Linked DNA regions of Homo sapiens. The protein of the gene in region 1 purifies or fractionates together with the protein of each later gene. This does not show direct contact. Each region holds a gene or a part of one and is shown in the gene's direction. Other genes may lie near its edges.

What was found. Proteins that work in one complex are often made in the same cells at the same time.
Region 2: the proteins of DDX19B (region 1) and TRIM29 purify together in Homo sapiens (affinity purification with mass spectrometry; 2 studies listed by BioGRID and IntAct, with this or other methods). This does not show direct contact.
Region 3: the proteins of DDX19B (region 1) and GM2A purify together in Homo sapiens (affinity purification with mass spectrometry; 2 studies listed by BioGRID and IntAct, with this or other methods). This does not show direct contact.

Annotation. Positions count from the first base shown.
Region 1 is NC_000016.10:70,323,172-70,330,192, forward strand, and holds part of DDX19B (ATP-dependent RNA helicase DDX19B), read left to right. Parts: intron 1-1,413; coding exon 1,414-1,516; intron 1,517-2,402; coding exon 2,403-2,517; intron 2,518-6,120; coding exon 6,121-6,298; intron 6,299-6,659; coding exon 6,660-6,897; intron 6,898-7,021. UniProt on the Homo sapiens protein: ATP-dependent RNA helicase involved in mRNA export from the nucleus.
Region 2 is NC_000011.10:120,114,105-120,121,125, reverse strand, and holds part of TRIM29 (tripartite motif-containing protein 29), read left to right. Parts: intron 1-460; coding exon 461-553; intron 554-2,804; coding exon 2,805-2,903; intron 2,904-4,065; coding exon of another isoform or gene 4,066-4,167; intron 4,168-5,711; coding exon 5,712-5,788; intron 5,789-7,021.
Region 3 is NC_000005.10:151,248,580-151,256,193, forward strand, and holds the start of GM2A (ganglioside GM2 activator isoform 1 precursor), read left to right. Parts: upstream 1-4,605; 5' UTR 4,606-4,637; coding exon 4,638-4,718; intron 4,719-7,614.

The DNA of each region.
Region 1 (7,021 bases):
AGCCTGCAACCTCCACCCTCCACCTCCTGGGCTCAAGAGATCCTCACATGTCAGCCTCCCAGGTAGCTGGGACTTCAGGTATGTACCACCATGTCCAGCTAATGTTTGTATCTTTTGTAGAGAAAGGGTTTCGGTATTTTGCCCAGGCTGGTCTCAAACTCCTAGGCTCAAGAAATCACCCACCTCAACCTCCCGAAGTGCTGAGATTGCAGGCATGAGCCACTGCACCTGACCTTGCCTGCTTTTTTTCTTTTTTCTTTTTTTTTTTTTGACACTGAGTCTCGCTCTATCACCCAGGCTGGAGTACAGTGGCGCGATCTCGGCTCACTGCAACCTCTGCCTCGTGGGTTCAAGCGATTCTCCTGCCTCAGCCTCCCAAGGAGCTGGGACTACAGGCGCCCACCACCATGCCTGGCTAATTTTTGTATTTTTAGTAGAGTCAGGGTTTTACCATGTTGGCCAGGCTGGTCTCAAATTCCTGACCTCGAATGATCCACCCACCTCGGCCTCCCAAAGTTCTGGGATTGCAGGCATGAGCCACCGCGCCTGGCCTTGCCTGCTTCTTGAGCTGCTTCTTGCCACCTTCAAGGCAAGACTTGGTTCTTGCCACTCTTACCCCCTACCCTGCTACCAAAACCTACATCTTGTTTTTTTTAGGCATTTCAAGGTAGATTACACTTTTAAATCAAGTGGTTAAGGTAGGATCTCCTGAAGTAGATATCTGGGCAAAGACTTGAAGGAGAGAAGGGAGTTAGCATGTTATCTGGGGACAGTTGTCCCAAGCAGAGCACAGCCAAGGCAGAAGCCCTAAGACAAGAGCATGACTGGCATGTTCTCTGAGCAGTACTAGGGCCCTGTGGTGGAACGAAGTAAGGGAGAGAGAGTAGTAGGAAATGAGAGCTGAGGTGTAATGGGGAGCAGATCATGCAGGACCTGTATGCCATTATGAGGGTTTCAACTTGTACTCTGAATGAAACGAGGAATTATTGGAAGGTCTTTGGGCAGAGAAGTAATGTGAGCTGACTCACATTTTAAGAATCAGTAGGCCAACTGCAGTGACTCACACCTATAATCCCAGCACTTTGGGAGGCTGAGGCAAGAGGATCACTTGAGCCCAGGAGGTTGAGGCTGCAGTGAGCCAAGATTGTGCCACTGCACTCCAGCCTGGTCAACAGAGTGAGACCTAATCTCAAAAAAAAAAAAAAAAAAAAAAAAAAGAAGAAGATGTGGAGTGCTTCAAATCCCACCAGAAAATCTTATTTCTATAGTGCCCTGTTCTTGTGAAGCTAGCATATGTAACTCTGCTACATAATCCAAGGTCTCCTATAAATGAATTTTTAATACTCATTTTTTTAAACTTTGTTAACTAAAAGGTTGAGATTTAAGCTCCTAACTAGTTTGTTTCTTGCGCAGCCCACAGAACTTAATTGCCCAATCTCAGTCTGGTACTGGTAAAACAGCTGCCTTCGTGCTGGCCATGCTTAGCCAAGTAGAACCTGCAAACAAATACCCCCAGGTAAGGATTTATGAATTTAGGTTTTCTACTAATGCATAGATAGAAGGGGATTTCCATTTGATGGATTAAAAGACAAGCTATGGGCTGGGTGCAGTGGCTCATGCCTGTAATCCCAGCACTTTGGGAGGCCGAGGTGGGCGGATCACCTGAGGTCAGGAGTTCTAGACCAGCCTGGCCAACATGGTGAAACCCTGTCTCTACTAAAAATAAAAAATTAGCTGGGCCTGGTGGCATGTGCCTGTAATCCCAGCTACTTGGGAAACTGAGGCAAGAGAATCATTTGAACCCGGGAGGCGGAGGTTGCAGTGAGCTGAGATCGCACCATTGCACTCCAGCCTGGGCAAAAAGAACGAAACTCTGTCTCAAAAAAATAAAATAAAAGCCAAGCTATGCATTACTTTTTACACAAACTGAAACTCCTTAAATTGAGCACAAATAATACGGGATATCTTCCAATGGCAATAAAAATCCTGTTTCCTTTTTCCATGGTGTGCCAGTTCTGGGATGCTTCTTACAGGCTTGGCTCCTTTACTTGCAGGAAAACCTGTTTCATCAGCAACTGCCATCCATTAGAAAGTTCTGAGAGCTTTCTGAGTAAACGAAAAGAAAGCTAATGCCAATTGGAACTTTAGATCCTTGCTCATGGGTGGGTTTTTGTATTGCAGTGGCCAGTATCTGTTTTCAAGTGTCTTTACCCAGCCAGAGTTCTGACCCCTAAGAATTCTAGCTTATGACTCTGTAGCTTAAAGAATCAAATGGTGTACATTTTAATGTACATATTCTTTCCTTCAGCTTCAGCTGGAGGAGTGGCTAAGTACTAATGGTAATTCCCCTTTGCAAAAGAGCTATTGTCTTGAATTTGCACTCTGCATTCTTTTCCTGCCAGTGTCTATGTCTCTCCCCAACGTATGAGCTCGCCCTCCAAACAGGAAAAGTGATTGAACAAATGGGCAAATTTTACCCTGAACTGAAGCTAGCTTATGCTGTTCGAGGCAATAAATGTGAGTATGTGAATTTGGTCCTAAATCATCAACCTAATTCTTTTTATTTTGAAATATTTCAAAACCCACCCAATAGTTGAAATAATACAATAAACACATGTATGTTCTCCAGCTAGATTCAAAAACTTAACATTTTGCCATATTTGCTTTACATAAATGTATACATTTTTGTCAAACCATTTGAAAGTAAACTGCAGACATGCACCTCATGAGGACATTCTTTGCCATACCTATGGATACCCTTTTATCACAACCAGGAAAATTAACAGATTTCCTAGAATAACTAATACCAGTCCATTTTTATTCCTCCCCAGCTGTTCCCAAAGTCTTCCTTTATAGCTGTTTGGTTTTTCGACCAAGATCAAGTTAGCGTTTATACGTTGCGTTTGGTTGTTGTACTTGTTTCTTTCAATCTAGAATTGTACCCCTACCTTTTTCTCTCCCTATTATATTTAACATTTTGCACAGACCAGACTAGTTGCTTTTCAAATATTCTACATTCTGGCCGGGCGCGGTGGCTCACGCCTGTAATCCCAGCCCTTTGGGAGGCCGAGGCGGGCAGCAGATCACGAGATCAGGAGATTGAGACCATCCTAGCTATCATGGTGAAACCCCGTATCTAATAAAAATACAAAAAAATTAGCCAGGCGTGGTGGCGGGCACCTGTAGTCCCAGCTACTTGCGAGGCTGAGGCAGGAGAATGGTGTGAACCTGGGAGGCAGAGCTAGCAGTGAGCTGAAATAGCGCCACTGCACTCGAGCCTGGGCGACAGAGCGAGACTCCGTCTCAAAACAAGCAAACAAACAAAAAACAAACAAACAAAAATTCTACATTCTAGATTTGTTTATTTTTATTTATTTATTTTAGAAACAGAGTCTTGCTCTGTCACTCAGGCTGGAGTACAGTGGCATGATCTTGGCTCACTGCAACCTCTGCCCTCCGGGTTCAAGTGATTCTCCTGCCTCAGACTCCCAAGTAGCTGGGATTACAGGTGCCTGCCACCATGGCTGGCTAATTTTGTATTTTTAGTACAGATGGGGTTTCACCACGTTGGCCAGGCTGGTCTCAAACTCTTGACCTCAGGTTATCCATCTGCCTCGGCCTCCCAAAGTGCTGAGATTATAGGTGTGAGCCACTGTGCCCAGACTTCTTTCTTTTTTTTTTGAGAGAGAGTCTCGCCCTGTCGCCCAGGCTGGAGAGCAGTGGCACAGTCTTGGCTCACTGCAAGCTCTGCCTCTGGGGTTCACACCATTCTCCTGCCTCAGCCTCCTGAGTAGCTGGGACTACAGGCGCCCACCACTACGCCCAGCTAATTTTTTGTATTTTTAGTAGAGACGGGGTTTCACTGTGTTAGCCAGGATGGTCTCTATCTGCTGACCTCGTGATCCTCCCGCCTTGGCCTCCCAAAGTGCTGGGATTACAGGCGTGAGCCACTGCGCCTGGCCGCCTTCTTTTTTTTATTTTGAGACAGTTTCGCTAGGTCACCTAGGCTGGAGTTCTGACTCCAGGCACGAGCCACCGTGCCTGGCCACACCCAGCTAATTTTCTAAAAATTTTTTTTGTAGGCCAAACATGGTGGCTCATGCCTGTAATCCCAGCACTTTAGCAGGCCGAGGTGGGTGGATCACGAGGTCAGGAGATAGAGACCATCCTGGCCAACATGGTGAAACCCCATCTCTACTAAACATAGAAAAATTAGCCAGGTGTGGTGGCATGTGCCTGTCGTCCCAGCTACTCAGGAGGCTGAGGCAGGAGAATCACTTGAACCCGGGAGGTGGAGGTTGCAGTGAGCCAAGATCGTGCCACTGCACTCCAGCCTGGGCGATAGAGCAAGACTCTGTCTCAAAACAAAACAAACAAAAAAAAACAAACAAATTTTTTTTTTTTTTGTAAAGACAGTGTCTTGCTATGTTGCCCAAGCTGGTCTAGAACTCCAAGTCTCAAGCAATCCTCCTGCCTCGTCCCCTCAAAGTGATGGGATTACAGGTGTGAGCCACTAGGCCAGGACTGAATTTGTTTAATTGCCTAATTTATTTATCTTCATTAGCAGAATAAAAACCCAGAATGTTTATGGCTATTGACTCTGGGGCTTATTCTGTTAATTATTTTTTGTTACTAATTTTTTCTACACTAGTTTGTTTTACAGTTAATATTATTTAAGTAATTTTAAAAGTGTTGTTGGCCGGACATGATGGCTCATACCTGTAATCTCAGCACTTTGGGAGCCTAAGGTGGGTGGATCATTGTAAGGTTAGGAGTTCGAGACCAGCCTGACCAACATGATGAAACCCAGTCTCTACTAAAAATACAAAAATATTAGCTGGGCATGGTGGTGCACACCTGTAATCCCAGCTACTCAGGAGGCTGAGGCAGGAGAATTGCTTGAACCCGGGAGGGGGAGGTTGCAGTGAGCCGAGATTGCACCACTGTACTCCAGCCTGGGCGACAGAATGAGATTCTGTCTCAAAAAAAAAAAAGTGTTAGAGGTTTGGTTGAGTTTTATGGATCTCTGAAACAAATGTGACCTTATGAAAATCAAGTCTGCATACAGTGTCCTAATGCCAACTTGAGGCCAGTTCTGAAAAGTAAATAATACAGTGAAACTTATTGGGAGATAATCATTTAAAATTTTGCAATTTGTATTCGAATTAGAAGGGTAGAGAATTCTGAATTTTTTTTTTTTTTTTTTTTTTGAGACAGAGTCTCAGTCTGTCTCCGGGCTGGAGTGCAGTGGCGCGATCTCGGCTCACTGCAACCTCCGCCTCCTGGGTTCAAGCGATTCTCCTGCCCCAGCCTCCCAAATAGCTGAGATTACATGAGCCCACCACCACACCCAGCTAATTTTTGTATTTTTAGTAGAGATGGGGTTTCGCCATGTTGGCCAGGCTGGTCTCGAACTCCTGACCTCAGGTGATCCGCCTGCCTCAGCCTTCCAAAATGCTGGGATTACAGGCATGAGCCACCGTGCCCGGCCCTTTTAGTTATTTTTAAATGTACAATATATTGTTGACTGTAGTCACCACATTGTGCTATCAAATGCTAGATCTTACTTATTTTAATTGTATTTTTGTACCCATTACCTTTTCAGCATTTTTGTCTGTTTTTATGTCCATTAAATGCTATAGTGATATCCTAACCTTTCCTTAATATATTAATGCAAACAGCAAAACATTTGCATTAAAATATATAATAGGTTTAGAATTTCTCAGAGAGAAGAGCTGGCTTTGCCTTTGAAATACCCATGGAGGCCGGGCACGGTGGCTCATGCCTGTAATCCCAGCACTTTGGGAGGCCGAGGCAGGTGGATCACCAGGTCAGGAGTTCAAGACCAGCCTGGCCAAGAGAGTGAAACCCACCTCTACTAAAAATACAAAAAAAAAAAAAATTAGCCAGGTGCAGTGGCAGGTGCCTGTAATCCTAGATACTTGGGAGGCTGAGGCAGGAGAATCGCTTGAACCTGGGCGGCAGAGGTTGCAGTGAGTCGAGATCATGCCATTGCACTCCAGCCTGGGCAACAGAGTGAGACTCTGTCTCAAAAAAAAAAAAAAAAAAAAAGAAAGAAAGAAATACCCACACATGGAAAACATCTTGGGGTCTCCACAGTGGAAAGAGGCCAGAAGATCAGTGAGCAGATTGTCATTGGCACCCCTGGGACTGTGCTGGACTGGTGCTCCAAGCTCAAGTTCATTGATCCCAAGAAAATCAAGGTGTTTGTTCTGGATGAGGCTGATGTCATGATAGCCACTCAGGGCCACCAAGATCAGAGCATCCGCATCCAGAGGTAGGGATCTCGAGGGTGGGGGACTCCTCAGATTCCCCATCTGCAGTGTCTTCTCCCTTCACTTCAGATGCCTCCTCTGGCTTCTGCCTGGGTCTTGGCTCTCGTACTCTCAGCAGCATTTGTTTGACGGGCCACTTCCGTGTCAGCGCTGGCCACAGTCCCTCCCAGCCTGGGTTGAGAAAGGAGACCTAGGGACTCTCCCCCAACCCCTGTCCCCATCCCAGGCCTGCTGCTCCTCCTCCCCAAGACGCTCCTCTCCCATCAGCCTTCCTGGGCATCTAGACCCTCCCAGCTGGGAAGGCTGTGCTTCTGTCGCTTCCCGGGGCCACCTGGGGCCACCTACCAGGGCCTTCCCTTGCAGGATGCTGCCCAGGAACTGCCAGATGCTGCTTTTCTCCGCCACCTTTGAAGACTCTGTGTGGAAGTTTGCCCAGAAAGTGGTCCCAGACCCAAACGTTATCAAACTGAAGCGTGAGGAAGAGACCCTGGACACCATCAAGCAGTACTATGTCCTGTGCAGCAGCAGAGACGAGAAGTTCCAGGCCTTGTGTAACCTCTACGGGGCCATCACCATTGCTCAAGCCATGATCTTCTGCCATGTGAGTAGCAGTGGCAGTGGCAGGCCTGGCCCTTCCCTCTCAGCCAGCTCCCCACAGGGCTCAGGAGGACTGGATGCCCCTGGGTGCCATGGGAAGAAACGAAGTGGTTTGTTCTCCTAAGGTT
Region 2 (7,021 bases), on another chromosome or scaffold:
GCTGGGTATCGGTGGTGGTATCAGTCCCCACTGCTTCCTCACAAGGCTGTTGTGAGAGCCCAGGTGTGCGGGAAGGAAAGCACTTGTGAAGTGAGGCTCTGATCTCCCGGGAAGCAGCAGCCTGGGTGGGCCCCTGGGAGGTGTTTCTGGCTCATTAGGCCACTTCCAGGAGGCCCCACCCTCACGTGGCTGAGAGCCTACTGCTTCTGCCCTCGTGGTTGCCATGGCCTCTCCAAGTTTATGCTGATGCTCTCTGCACGGTTACTAACAGAGTCCTTCTACTCTCAAAAGCATGCCAATTTGGGTGATAAATTAGTTGATTGACTTATGTCAGACCCAAAGGACTTCTCTCAGTGGTGGAATCCAGGTCCTGTGATGGGCACTTGGGCAACTTTTTGGGGGCAAGGAGTCCTGATGAGACAATTTTCTGCAATGACAGCCCCCTTCATCTGCTTCACAGGTGGGGTCCGGACATCATACCAGCCCTCGTCTCCTGGCCGCTTCACCAAGGAGACCACCCAGAAGAATTTCAACAATCTCTATGGCACCAAAGGTAGGTGGTGGCTCAGCTCAAGGGTGCACAGAGTTCATGTGGGGCTGTGCAGGCAGGAGGGGCATAGAGGTGGGTCCAGGGGCACAGGGCTGGGACCCCAGTGTGAGATGAATGTGGGAAGCTAGGATGGGTGGAGGGTCCAGGCATGGGTAGGGAGGGGTCCTACCTACCGAGCTTAAAGTGTGTGTGTGTGTGTGTGTGTGTGTGTGTGTGTGTGTGTGTGTGTGTACATGTGTGGGGGACACCATTAGTTAGGCTGGAGGAAAAACAGCCAGGAATCTCGGCATCCCTGGAGATCCCTGAGTCTGTGTGCTCTTCTGATCCCTGAGGAAGGATCTGGGGAAAACTGGGTCTGAGCAGCCACCTTGGGCTTAAGTGTGGGGAATGCGCCACCCCCCCCACAAGTATGAGGGCACGAGGACCCAAAGAGAATCTCTACTGATTTGAGTACTTCTGCAGTGAAAAGTCGTACAGTGGTTAGTTGTCAACTTGGCTGTGACTGGAAAGGAAGGCACGGCAGGAAATGGGGCTGGCCCTGGAGCTCCAGGTGGTGAGGCAAGCGAGCAGCACCTTAAGACCCAGATGGGATGAAATGGGTGTGGGGATGTGGCTTCCCCAGGGGAAGCTGCTAAGTTCAGGGTCTCCCTCTGCCCAGTGCTCTGAGGGGACCATTTGCTCAAGGGCAGGGCCATGCATTCAATGAGACCTGGTTCTGGGAGACCCTGGTTCTGTCCTGGGGGCTCCTGGTCACATGCCAGCCATGCACAGGGAGGGAGGGGACTGGGTCAGCCCCCACCCTAGACATAGCACTGGAGGACTCTTCAGTGAGGGCAAGACTCATGGAGACTGGAGGGTCAGGGGCACCAGAGCAATGCCTGGGCCTCTACATCCAGAATTGGATTCACAGCCGTGATCAGCGGCACCCCTCCTCCACATATGCAGTAGACCTTGGGCACCTTGAGGACAGAGCTGTGTCTGTCCTGTTCGCTGCTACAGGCCCAGAGCTCAAAAGTAGGAGGGGGTCAGGAAGCAGTTGTTGAGAGAGAGGCTAAAGGCATGAGTGAACAGGAGGGCAAGGTGTCTGGCCTCGCGGAACCCTGGCTGGACGTGCTTACTGAGGCCTTGCTACAGAAGCTGCCTGGGATCCCTGTGGGAGGGCTTTGCACAGGGGCAGGTGGCCAACCCCAGCCATCTGTGACCCCTGAGCCCAAAAGTCAGCCCCCAGCCCTCCCCACAGGCTGCTAAGGAGTGAGCTTGACTAAGGAGGTCACTGATGCTTCAAGCCTGGCAGGTGGGGGTGTGGTGCTGGAGAAGTGTGCGTCACCCATGGGGACTCTGAGCCCCCCACTCCAGTGCCCTCTGAGTGCCCTGGCAGCTTCTCCCACCCCTTTCCCACTGCCTTCTTCTCCTCTGGACTATAGAACATGTCTGCACATAGGCATGTGTTAGCCTATTCAACTTGGCAACTATCAACTGTCTTGTCCCCAAGTTTTAGGATGTGTTTGTATTCATTCGTTCGTTGGTTCATGCATTCTATCCATCAACCATACAATGAGCACCTTCCAGGAACCAGGCTCTGTGCCAGGCACCAGGTGTGATGCAGGGGCCAGACAGGCACATTCCCAGTTCACGTGAGCTCACTGCGGGAGACAGACAATTGAACATGTAATTGCGACCCAGAGGGTAGGGGTTGCAGGACGATGTGGGGATGAAGCTGAAGGCACATGCAGACGTTGGGAGGTGCCATGTAAGCTGACACTTGAAGACCCCACCCATGAATCGCCGAGGGTGGCAAGCAGGAGAAGTGTCCTAGGCAGAGGACAGGGTCTGGGCACATAGCCTGGGGCAGGAGAGAAGATGGAGTGTCTCAGACACTGAGGCTTAGCCTGGTTTGAATGTCCAGTGGTGGAGGGAGGGCAGAGGTGAAGTCAAGAAGTGGGAGATGGTGGGTGGGTGGTGGGGGTTGGGGGAGCAACTCACGACAGAGCTCTGGGCTGCTCTTGGGACTTTGTCCCTTATTCTGAGGACAGTGGCCTTTAGGTAGGGCAGGGACAAGACTATGCTTTATATTTTAGAAAGATAGCTTTGGTGGCAGAAGGATGGGGGTGAGGCGTCACTGGGATCACACAGTGGCATCCTGGCTTAAGTTGTGGCCAGCGGCTAGAGAGTCATAGACCTGGCTGTGTCCTGGTCCTGCCTCCTCTCCCACTCCCAGCTGTGGGGGCCTGACAGCCCTTCTTTGTCCTGCCAGGTAACTACACCTCCCGGGTCTGGGAGTACTCCTCCAGCATTCAGAACTCTGACAATGACCTGCCCGTCGTCCAAGGCAGCTCCTCCTTCTCCCTGAAAGGTGAGCTTGCCCACCCTGGCCCCTGCTTTCCTCCACAGCTGCCTCACACCTCCCAAGCCCTGCTTGGGTCTCTTCGCTGAGCTGCTAGTTCCTCCCTCACCTCGTGGAGGAGAGAGGCCTGGCCTGAGAGCCCGGGAGCTACCGCCATGGTCTTTGCTGAAAATGAGGGCAGGGGTGGGGGCTGGGCCACATCAGCGTTTCCCAGGGCTTGTTTCACCGCTCTCTAGTCTCTAACTACACGCTGCAACAACAGCTCTCAGTGGTCAGGACCGGGGGACATGCCATACCCCCTGCACTCGACCTCTCTGATCCTCAGGATGCTGCTTCTCCTACTGCAGAGTTTATTTAACTCCCAGCGTTGGCTGGCTCTAGGGTCCTGTGGCCATGGGGCACCTGCCAGCATCCTGCAGATCCAATCCTGCAGGCGCCCCTTTGGGAAAGGCAGGACCAGACGACCCTAAGTCCCCCCAAGGCTGATCCTCTTTTCCTGCACTCTGTCCCCCGCCTGCCTGTGGTGCTCCCAGCACTCTGACAAGGCAGAGTGATTGACGCCTCCTGTCCCCTGGGGTTGGGGGCATCCTGAGGGGGCAGGCTTGAACCAGACTCTGGCTATGGGCCCCAGACCCTCATGTATCTCCTGAAAGATCCCAGGGACAGCTCTAATGGCTGTGGTGGGAGTAACCCTGTCTCTCTTCTGGCACCCCAAACATCTGGCCTGGAAGTCAAGATCAGCACATTGGGTGGGCTCAGGAGAGGGAAAGGGGCTATGCAGGGCAGAGAGACCCCTGAACAGTGGTCTCTGAGGCCTCATCACTCAGTTGTCCCTTCCGGCCCAGGGTCCTATACTATACCCAGGACAGGGATTCTTGGAGCTGCCGGCAAGAGGGAGGAGACAGGACTATGGGTGGAGGGTCCCAGCCTGCAGGAGCCCCGGGCATGTCTTAGCTCTGATCCGGGCCTGGGGAGCTCCAGGACTTGCCTTGGCCTGTTTGGCTTCTAGCAGGCGCCTTTCTGCTCTCTGCTCAAGCCTGGCCCACAGAGCACCTGGCAGGGGAGGTGGCCGCTCTCAGGTGTGATTCAGAGCAGCCCCCAGAATGAGGTGTGGGTCCTTTTGGCCCCTCTGGGACCAGCGCTGTGCCACTAATGCCTCTCTCTCTCCCAGCAGGCACTGGGAAAACCCCTTATCAGTTCACCACCTTGGGACAGGCCACTGCAGAGTTTTCCAAACCACTGGGTCGCAGTGGGCTGTCTAAAAATAATCCCGGTATCTGCCCATTTTCCATCCCTCCCCTTTTCTCTCCCACAGCGGGGCAGGTGGGACATGGGGGGCTCTCTGCCACTTCTAGGGTGTGCCGGTCCCTTCTCCCCAGAGCTCCCTGGAGAGGGATGCATGCCCCACCTGCCACCCCAGCATACTCTCTATCTGGACTTCTGCCTGCTGCACAAGGCGGGTGTCTTGGGCCACCCTGACCCCACCCCTGTTTCCATTCTCCCCTCTCTCATGGCTGGCATGGGATTTTCTTTCTGGGAACTGAGAGATGAGGCCTGAATTACCCCTCTTAATCTCCACTCAGGATCCCTGGAACCCCCCTTTCCAAGGCTGCTCCCACCCTCAGATGCAGGAAGAGACCCAGGTTCTTTGCTCTGTCTCCTCCCCCTCCTCCTTGCTCAGTGCCAACCTGGGAAGGGCCAACCCAACTGGCAGCCTGGCGGTGCTCATCATGAGCCTGACCTGCTCATCCTCGCTTAGAGCAGGGCAGGAGAGGGGCTTTCCCGAGACAGACCGCATGCAGCCTCTCACTGGACAGAGATCTGGCCCAGGACAGACCCTGCTTATTTCTTGAGGGCCTCAGCATCCAGGTCATGGCCTGTGTCTTCCCAGGCGTCCCTGCAGGCTGATGGCTGACACTGAGAGTGCCTTCACTGTGCTGTGAACCAGAGCTCCTTTCAGGTCTGTCTGGGCTGAGGCGCAGGGAGTCAAGGCGGCCCCGTCTTAGACTAGCATCTTTGCAACCAAGCTCAGAGAGCGCACCTGCTCCAGGCCTCTTGGGCTTGCCATCCTAACCCTGGGTGGCGGCCACAATGACAGATTCCTGCACCTCTCTAGGCCCTAGTCTCTGGCTAGTGAAACAGGGGAGGGGCCACAAAGCCAGGGAGAAAAAAACATGAATTTGGGTTTTGGATTTCCGGCACTCTGTCCCCCGCCTGCCTGCGGTGCTCCCCAGCACCTGGTTTGCTGCTTATGAGCTGTGCAACTCAGGCAGACTGCTGAGCTCATAGATACGGGGCCAGGCTCAGTGAGGAGACATCTACAAAGTCCCTTCCACAGTGCTTGGCACAAGTGGGGCTCCGTGAATGGGAAGCATCGTCCAAACAGCACAGGGGAGTCCAAGTGAGCGCCTCCTGCCGGGAAACTCTGGCAGGCCATGCTTATGCGTGGCGCTCCTGGGCTCTGGGAAGGGGAGGGCCCGTGGTGTAAACCTCCGGGGTGGGTGAGTGGAAATCCCTGCAGAGCAGTGTGATGCTGCGCTGGATGTGGGGGCAACACTCCCCTGCTGCCTGGTCCAGCCCACCTGGCCGGCTCCTCCTCCTTCTGTCTGCTTTGCTGCCTCCTCCCTTTGGCCAGCCTCCCCAGGATTTTCGGTTGCGGCACCCTGGCTGCTGCACGCGTGTTCAGACGGCTGCATTTGGTAATGGGCTGGATGATGCTTGGTGGTCACTTTGGAGAAGGCAGCTGTGCTGCTCTGGGCCCGGGCACCCCTGACCACCAGCGCTGCTCCCTTTGACCTGAATCTCTTGTCTTCCCAGGCTATCCCTCCCTCATGCGGAGCCAAAGCCCCAAGGCCCAGCCCCAGACTTGGAAATCTGGCAAGCAGACTATGCTGGTAAGGGAAGTGCTGCCGGGAGGGCCTGGGCACATCCAGAGACCTGGGCACTGAAGGGGGCTCCCTGGAGGCAATCGGTTCCAGGGCCTGTGGGAGGACTTCTCTGGGCCATGGGGTGGAGGAGAAGGAGGCAGCAGTGGCCTGAATACCTGTACACAGCAGAGGGTAGTAGAGACCCAGGGCTAATGGGCAGGGGACTAGCTAAGCATACACTCTCTGGACCTCAGTTTTCTGATCTATAAAATGGGCAGCCTTGATTTTTTTATTTGGCAAATGCTTGTTGGATGCCTATGCTAGTGGAATGGCAGCTTGGGTTCTGCCAGCTCTGGGATTGTAAAACAGCCCAGTGGGAGGACAGGCCTCCTCCTAGAGATGGGTCCCACCTCCCTGGGGGCAGTTCTCCAGTTCTGACAGCATAGAGGCCATTGGGGTGATAATGTGGGGGTGGGAGAGACTGGAAAGTCGGGAATAGATATATTTAGGGTCAATATCTAATGACCCGAGGCCAGGCATATCAGAAGAGCAGCATGACAGGGAAGCATGGCTTTGGGGTCCAGGCCACCTGCTGACGGTGGGGTCCTGGATGAATTAGATACCCTCTCTGAGACTCTTCCTTGCTTTTTATTATGTGGGGACTGAGATGATCCCCAGTGCCCGTTAGATCTGACATATCTGACCCTGACTGAGACCTCAGTGATCGGGGACTGTAGTTCACATGCAGAGCCCCCATGTGCCTGAATGCCTTGCTCCTGAAGGTCCATTCTAGGCCCTGCTACAGGAGTCGGCCACTGCCGTGGCATGTGGATGGCATCAGGAGCTCTGCTGGAACCAGGGCCGGAGCCCTTGTTTCTTGCTGTCCTTGCAATTGGAGGTCAGAGCAGGAGAGGTGATTTGCCCTGGACCACAAAGAATGGCTGGGGTTGGTTTAATTGGAGAGGATCTTTAATTGCTGGGGATGGGAGCTAAGTGATCGTGTATGTAATTTGGAGCTGGACTCAGGGGCATTGCAACAGCAGGACTGCAGAAAGCAGATATGGGGAGAAAAAAGAAGGTTTCTGTTCTAGACTCAGTCCTTCCCCTCCCTACTACATACTTTTCCACCCTCTCAGAGCCTGGGGCCCTGAAGAGAAGGCTCATCAGCACTTTGAGGCCCCTGGCAGAGCAAGGTTTTGGTGTCCAGCAGGCACCCAGCACTGGGAGAGTGGAGACAGGCGCTGGGCTGCAGAGAAGCTG
Region 3 (7,614 bases), on another chromosome or scaffold:
TCTGGGGCAGATTGGCTAATGAAATGCTGTGCCATTAATATTTTGCCTTCGGGAGAAGAAGGGTCCAGATTAGTATATATTTAAAGGCTTCCTCCAGCCTACCATAAAACATGGCTGGATTTTCCTCCTTGCCTTATGTAACCTCCCTTACTTTATCATAATTTACTGCCTTAGTTAATCCCTTTCTCATTCCTCCAAGGACAGCCTCAAGAAATTTAGCCAGGTGGTTCATTCCCATGGGGGCGTTATAGTTTCAATTAGGATCAGTAGTGGGAACTGTGTCTGGGCCTCGGTAATTGCCCTGAGGGTTTCAGGTGGATAATTCATCCACTTCCCTGCTGGCAGCCTCAAAGATTTGTTCCTTTCCTGAGGGAGTGCCAACAGGTTGCTAGAATGAATTGACCATCTCTCCATGAGAGATCAAAGGCTAAGGTCAAAGTGTGGAACTCATCTGCAAATTTCCTAGGATTCTCAGAACAGCTTCCTAGCTTTTCCTTACATTGTTGAATATTAGTTATAGAGAAGGGGGCCTGCACTAGGACTGGCCCCTCAACTCCTGCTACTTCCCTAAGGTGTAGCAGGGCTGGAAGAAGAGCTGAATACAGGGTTCCCCTCCGAATGTGAGGGGGACTTAGTAGGGTCTCTGGTGTTTGCTCCTGGGGTTGAGCCTCAGGAGCACTTGCAAGGGGCTATATGGGGGTGGTCACTGTTCACTCTGAGAGACAGGTGGCCCTTGTAAGAGGGGGTCATCTATAATATGTAGTTCTCCCTTAGAACTTTCCTTTGTGGGGTGGGTTCTGGGAGTTTCACAGATTGTTAGGTTTTGGTAAAGCGTCATGGAAGTCTGCATGTACAAGATTTCTGACCATGTGCTCTGTCTCTTGCAAAATAGGTCTAATTGCAGGATGATGTCATAATTAAGGCTACCATTGACTACCCATTTTTTCCAGGCTGGGCAGCTCATAATGGAGCCAGACAGTACTGCAGAAAAAAATTATATGTTTTCTCTTTAGATTGTCAGGGTCAAATTGATCGCAATGGTGGAGGACGTAGCCGAGCGGGGAATCAGGTGGAATAGGTAGAGAGTTGCCCACAGTGGTCTGGAAAAGAGAAGAGGACTGACCAGGTGACCCAAATTTTACCTGAGGCATCCTCCTGGAAAAATTCTGGGCCCAGACTGGGGTCCCTGGGAGCATCTCCCCATTAGGGCCCTGACTTAGCCTGTTAGATGTCTCTGACCTTAGATAGGTGCAGGCATTGCTTTGGAATGGTTCCCTCCACCACTGAAGACCTACTGTGAACTTTCCTTAAGGTTTTCCCATGCCACTTAAAGCAACTTTTTTTTTTTTTTGAGACAGGGTCTTGCTCTGTTGCCCAGGCTGGAGTGCAGTGGCATGATCTCGGCTCGCTGCAAGCTCTGCCTCCCAGGTTCATGCCATTCTCCTGCCTCAGCCTCCGAGTAGCTGGGACTACAGGCGCCGACCACCATGCCTGGCTAATTTTTTGTATATTTAGTAGAGATGGCGTTTCACCGTGTTAGCCAGGATGGTCTCAATCTCCTGACCTCGTGATCCGCCTGCCTCGGCCTCCCAAAGTGCTGGGATTACAGGCGTGAGCCACCGCAGCCGGCAAAGCAACCCTTTAACTCTCTCAATTTAGGCAATAATAGATTACCTTTCATGAATTCCCCCCACTCCCCATGCATCACACAGACCACCTACGACATGCCTGGACCCTCTGACTCATATAACCTTTTTGCATAGCTAGGTGGGTTTTCTGTCCTTAGCCAGTCAAGTGGGGGAAGGGAAGGGAAGAATTTAGCATAAGGTTTAAGTCACCTGAAACGTGTGAGTTTGCCCTGGATGAGCTGCTGCTGCTGCCAACCCAGACACAGGTAGGGATCTATAATCAGAAAGGACAGAAAAGAGTCTTTCACCCTTCTGGGCAGGGCAGCCGTCCCTGTTCACTCTTTGGCCTTCAGAGAACACTGGAGAGTGGCCCCGGCCAGTTTCCCTCAATTACCAAGGAGCTACTAGGAAACGACCAGTGAAAGACTGAAAAAGCAAAAAACAAACAAACAAAAAACAACAAAAAACAAAAAGGAATAGAACTCAGAAAAAAGAGAGAAAAAAAGAAAAGGAATAGGACTCAGAAAAATGAAAACAAGGAAAAAGACTTCTCAGTGACCAGGCAGTGGCGGTCAAGTGCTTCGACACGGAAGCCTTTCAGTCTCACCAGAGAGTGGCCCTGGCCAGAAACTTACAATTTCCTCTGTGCTTAGGCGCTGTCCACCGAGTTGGGTTCCGAGTTGGAAAGGAAAAGAGAGAGGGAGAGAAAAATTCCCCTGCATTAAAAGGGAAATGGAGAAAAATAAATCCCAAGCTTTGGGCCTACCTTCTCTCCTGGCTGGCTTGCCAAAATATGTTACCAGTAGAGGGTTTTGACTGAAAGTTGTCTAGGTTCTTGGCGTTTTTGAACAAAGAATTGGAGAAAACACACAGAAAAGCAAGGGAAAAATGGAGCAATGAAAGAACAAAAGCAAGGGTTTATTAAAAATGAAAGTACACTCAACAGTGTGGGAGCGGGCCAAGCAGCAGCTCAAGGGCCCAGATACAGAATCTTCTTGGGTCCAAATACCCCCTAGAGGTTTCCCATTGGCCACTTGGTGCTCACCTCATGTAAATGAAGTGGTGGCCCGCAATCAGTCTGACTGGTTAATCAGAGGCCGAAGTGAAGTTACAAAGGTCATGCTCCTGTGCAAACATCTGATTGGTTGTGGAAAGCAACCAATCAGGCTGAAGTGAAGTTACAAAGTTGCACTTCTATGCAATTTTAACATATAAACTGAAATGTAGCATAGAAATCGAAATGTACTTTCAATTTCCCATCTGCTGCACAGAAAAGGTGGGGGGTTGTAAAGAGAGTAGCCTCTGGTCCTCTTGTTACTTAGGTGTGGAAAGTTAGGGTTTTCCTTTCGATTTAGTTCTAGGAAGTCAGCGTGAAATGGCCTTAGGTTCCCTGCCTGCAGACTCTATTCTCCTACCTCAGTTGGGCTAGGTGAAAGGGAAGAGTTGATCAGAATGGGAGGATCATTATGTAAAGTATGGAGCTTAGTTAATAATAGTGTACCAATGTCATGCCCTCAGATTTAAAAAAAATTTTTTAATTTTTTATTCTTTTGCCACCTCCTTGTCGCTGGCAGTGCCCCCCAGTTATGCACAAGCACAAGCTCTGGGTCTGCAGTCTGAACCCCCGGCCAGGCCACGGGTGTCTTATCAACAATAGAGGAAACGAACAGAACTTTGTAGTATTTTTGCAACTTTTCTGTAAACCAAAATAAAAAGTTTACTTTAAAAAAGATGATCAGGTGAGTTTTAAATTCTACACATGCATTCATGTACTCAACAGATTGTCTATTATGCATCAGGCACTGGGTATAAATGAGTGCCTGCATCATGATGCCACCCCTTGTGTAGTTTACAATCCTGTGGTAAATTGGCGGTATTGGTAACAACATCCCTGTTTTTTCTAAAAGCAAATCTCCAACTAGTATATTAACCTGACAAAATCTTGGCTGATGGGGTGTCTAAAAAGAAGTCTTGCTCTATTCCTTCCTAGCTGTGCGACCTTGGCAGAGCTAACCTCACTGTGTATCAGTTTCCTCAGTGCTAAAATTGGGGAAGAAAAAAAAAAAGCATTCCCTTGTGCGTCCTTAGCATGCTTTCAAGCAGTTACTAAATGTTAGTTTTTATAACGGTTATAATTATTAAAAAGATACGGATTCGTGAAGTCAAGAGATCAAGACCGTCCTGGACAACACGGTGAAACCCCGTTTCTACTAAAAACACAAAAATTAGCTGGGCGTGTGGCGCGTGCCTGTAGTCCCAGCTAGTCGAGAGGCTGAGGCGGAAGAATCGCTTGAACCTGGGAGGCAGAGGTTGCAGTGAGCCGAGATCGCGCCACTGCACTCCAGCTCGGGCGACAGAGCGAGAGTCCGTCTCAAAGCAAAAAAAAAAAAAAAAAAGACACACATATGGGGAAGCGTAACATGGCAGAGAGTCTGACATTTTTGTCCGGAAGGACTTGGGGATGAAAACACTGAATCCGCGGTTTCCCAAAGGTCCTTCCAAAGGTGACGGCCCCGGCACGAGTTCACAAACCACAGCTCCGCCCCATCCCCTGCCCGGCCCCGCCCTTCCCAGGAGCTCTGCTCCGCCCCGCCCCCGACTCCGCTCGGCCCCTCCTCGCGCCACGCCCCCGCCCCTCCCGCGCGCGCAGCTCCGCCCCGCCCTCGTGATCCCGCCCCAACCTCGTGCTAAGCTCCCTTCCGTTCCAGCCGCCTTCAGCCCCGCCGCGCTCAGTTCCGCCCCTTTCTCTTCCAACTCCGCCTACGCCCCAGAGAGGGAAGGCCTTGACACCTACGCTAGAGAGACAGGCTCCAATGAAAAGAGCGAGGGGGCGGAGCCGGGAGGAATCGGTCCAATTCTCGGCCGGGAAGTCTCTGGCCGGGACGGGGCAGGGCGAACCTGCCAGTGACTGGACTCAGCTTCTTTGCGTAACCAATACTGGAAGGCATTTAAAGGCACCTCTGCCGCCACAGACCTTGCAGTTAACTCCGCCCTGACCCACCCTTCCCGATGCAGTCCCTGATGCAGGCTCCCCTCCTGATCGCCCTGGGCTTGCTTCTCGCGGCCCCTGCGCAAGCCCACCTGAAAAAGGTGAGTGCACCCTCTTTTAAGAGTCTGTTTGCAGCCTCCTGGCCCAGCTACGGGTGTGCGGGTCTGGCTGAGATATGGGGGTGGCCACTCCGTTCTCTAGAATTGGTTCTCTGCACTAGAGCCTTCCAAAGTAACTAATTATGGGATTCTGGTCTGTACAATGAGGGTGGCCTCTAAAGACTTGTTCTGCTCCAGGCCCTTTTTGGAGAGATTAATCTCACGTCTGCACTCTCCTGCCCTCCCTCCAAGCGCCGGAGTGAAAATGCAGACAGCCTTAAAACTAAGGCATTGCCCCCAGAGATTCAGTCCTGTTAACCCTGCACCTTACTCCTGACCCCCACTCCTTATGTCCCCCATGATAAGGCCTGCTGCCTCATCTCTTCCCCTGCTCGAATGCCCTGAGGTCTTCCTGAGAGTTGGGAGGGTTTGAGAGCTTTTCCAGGCCAGAGGATCCAGATTTGCCCATCTGGTGACAAATACCCAGGCCTGTGACCCCGCTGCCCTTGGTTATGAGCCACTGAGACAACAGTCCCCGTACCCTCCAAGCTTCCTCCTTCACTTCTCATTGACACCGCTTCTTCCTTCACTTCTCATTCACACCGTGCTGCAGATCCCTGGGAAAGGGAAGTTCTGTAATCCCTTCACCTGAAAAAGCCTCGTTCCTGGCTTATTGCAGCTAGCCCAATGTCTTTCAGATTCAATCTATGTTGTTGCAAATGACAAGATGTTCCCCCTTTTAAAGGCTGAATAGTATTCTGTTGTGTATATATGCCACATTTTCTTTATGCATTCAATTTGATGGATAATTTCTTCATCAAGTGTCTGTTGATGGATAATTTCTTTATCCATCAAGTGTCTGTTGATGGACACTTAGGTTATTTCCATATCTTAGCTATTGTGAGTAATGCTGCAATGAATATGGGAGTGCAGATAGCCCTTCGAAATGTTGATTTCAGTTCCTTTGGATATATACCCAGAAGTGGGATAATGGCTCATATGGTAGTTCTGTTTTATTATCTCATTTATATGCGGATTCTAACCAAGTTGAACTTACAGAAGTTGAGAGTAGAGGTGGGGTCTCACTCTGTCACCCAGGCTGGAGTGCAGTGGGGCGATTGTAGCTCACTGCAGCCTTAAACTCCTGGGCTCAAGCAGTCCTCCCACCTCAGTCTCCTGAGTAGCTGGGACTGCAGGTGTGGGCCACCAAGTTCTGCTAAGGAATAGGCTTTGAGATTTATTGCACACCAGGGTGACTATCGTCAGTAATGTATTATATACAGAAGCTCCTTAACTTTCCATGAGGTTATGTTCTGATAAACCCATCATAAGTTGAAAATGCATTTAATACAGCTAACCTGAGAATCATAGCCTAGCCTACCTTAAACATGCCTAGCCTACCTTAAACATGCCCAGAACATTTACATTAGCCTACAGTTGGGCAATATCATCTAACACAAAGCCTATTTCATAATAAAGTGTTGAATGTCTCATGTGATTTACTGAAGACTGTACTGAAAGTGAAAAACAGTATGGATACTAAAAGTACAGTTTCTACTGAATATTTATCACTTAGGCACGATTGTAAAGTTGAAAAATGGTATGTCAAACCATTGTAAGTCAGGAACTGTGTGCATTTCAAAACAACTAAGAGAATACATTTCACATTGCAGTGTACCCCATAAATGTATACAACTATGGTTTGTCAATTTAAAAAAAACCCAAGACCAGGTGCGGTGGTGCACACCTGTAATCCCAGGACTTTGGGAGGCTGAGGTGGACAGATTGCTTGAGCTCAGGAGTTCAAGACCAGCCTGGGCAACATGGTGAAGCCCCATCTCTGCAAAAATACAAAAATTAGCTGGGCGTGGTGGTGTGCGCCAGTATTCCCAGCTACTTGAGAGGCTAAGGTGAGAGGCCCAGCTACGCCTGAACCTGGGAGGTCATGGCTACAGCTGAGATTGCACCACTGCATTCCAGCCTGGGTGACAGAGTGAGACCCTATCTCACAAAAAAACCCCAAAAACAAAAACCCGATTCCATTGCCTCTTGGCTGCTAGCTGTGGTCAAGACATCACACATTTCTGGTAGCAAAGGGATAGGTCCAACCCTGATCCCCTCCCTTCTACCATCTTGGAAGTGTTTGAGAGTGAGGAACAGTGCTGTGTAGGGGAAAGCGGGTGATACTGAAAGCAGGGAGGCTTGGCTTCTGATCATTCCCCTGTCTCAATCCATGGATTTCCTGAGTCTTGTTCTCCTCATCTGTAAGATGGGTGTGATGGTGCCAACGTGCATCTCGGGGAGTTGTCGGTGAAGGGAAATGCATTCATTGATGGAAAATTTCTAAAATCAGAAACAAATAAAGCCATATAAATCTGTGGGCTTGGCCTCACTCTGCCCCCGAGGCAGAAAGTCTGTTTTGCTTGTTGAATGAAGGAACGTGGACCTTTTGACTTCATTTGCCTGGAGAATTTATACCTTGTTCCTGAATGTTGGCTGAGAATGCTTCTCTTGGCTCCAGGGCTGGCCGCTATGAGGTGGAGTCTGGCTAGAGGCTGCTAGCTCACCCTACAAACTTGTTGTATATGCTGTGGGTATGGATGCCATCTCAGACTAGGTCTTAGATTGGCAGTTTTGAAGAGGCCCTGAGACATTATAAAGGTCACTCAAAATCACACAGCACCTACATCTTCTTGGGGCTCATGTGATTCAGAGCCCTGACCTTGAGTCCCTGGGCCAGATAAAGATGGGGGTGGGGGGTGACAGTGAATGAACATCAGGAAACCTGAATTTCAGTTCCTCTTCTAGCATAACTGATCTTGTGACTACAGGCTGTGATGGGTGTTAGATAACAGGGGAGGATATCTAGCCCCATGCTAGTCATATAGTAGGTGCTTAA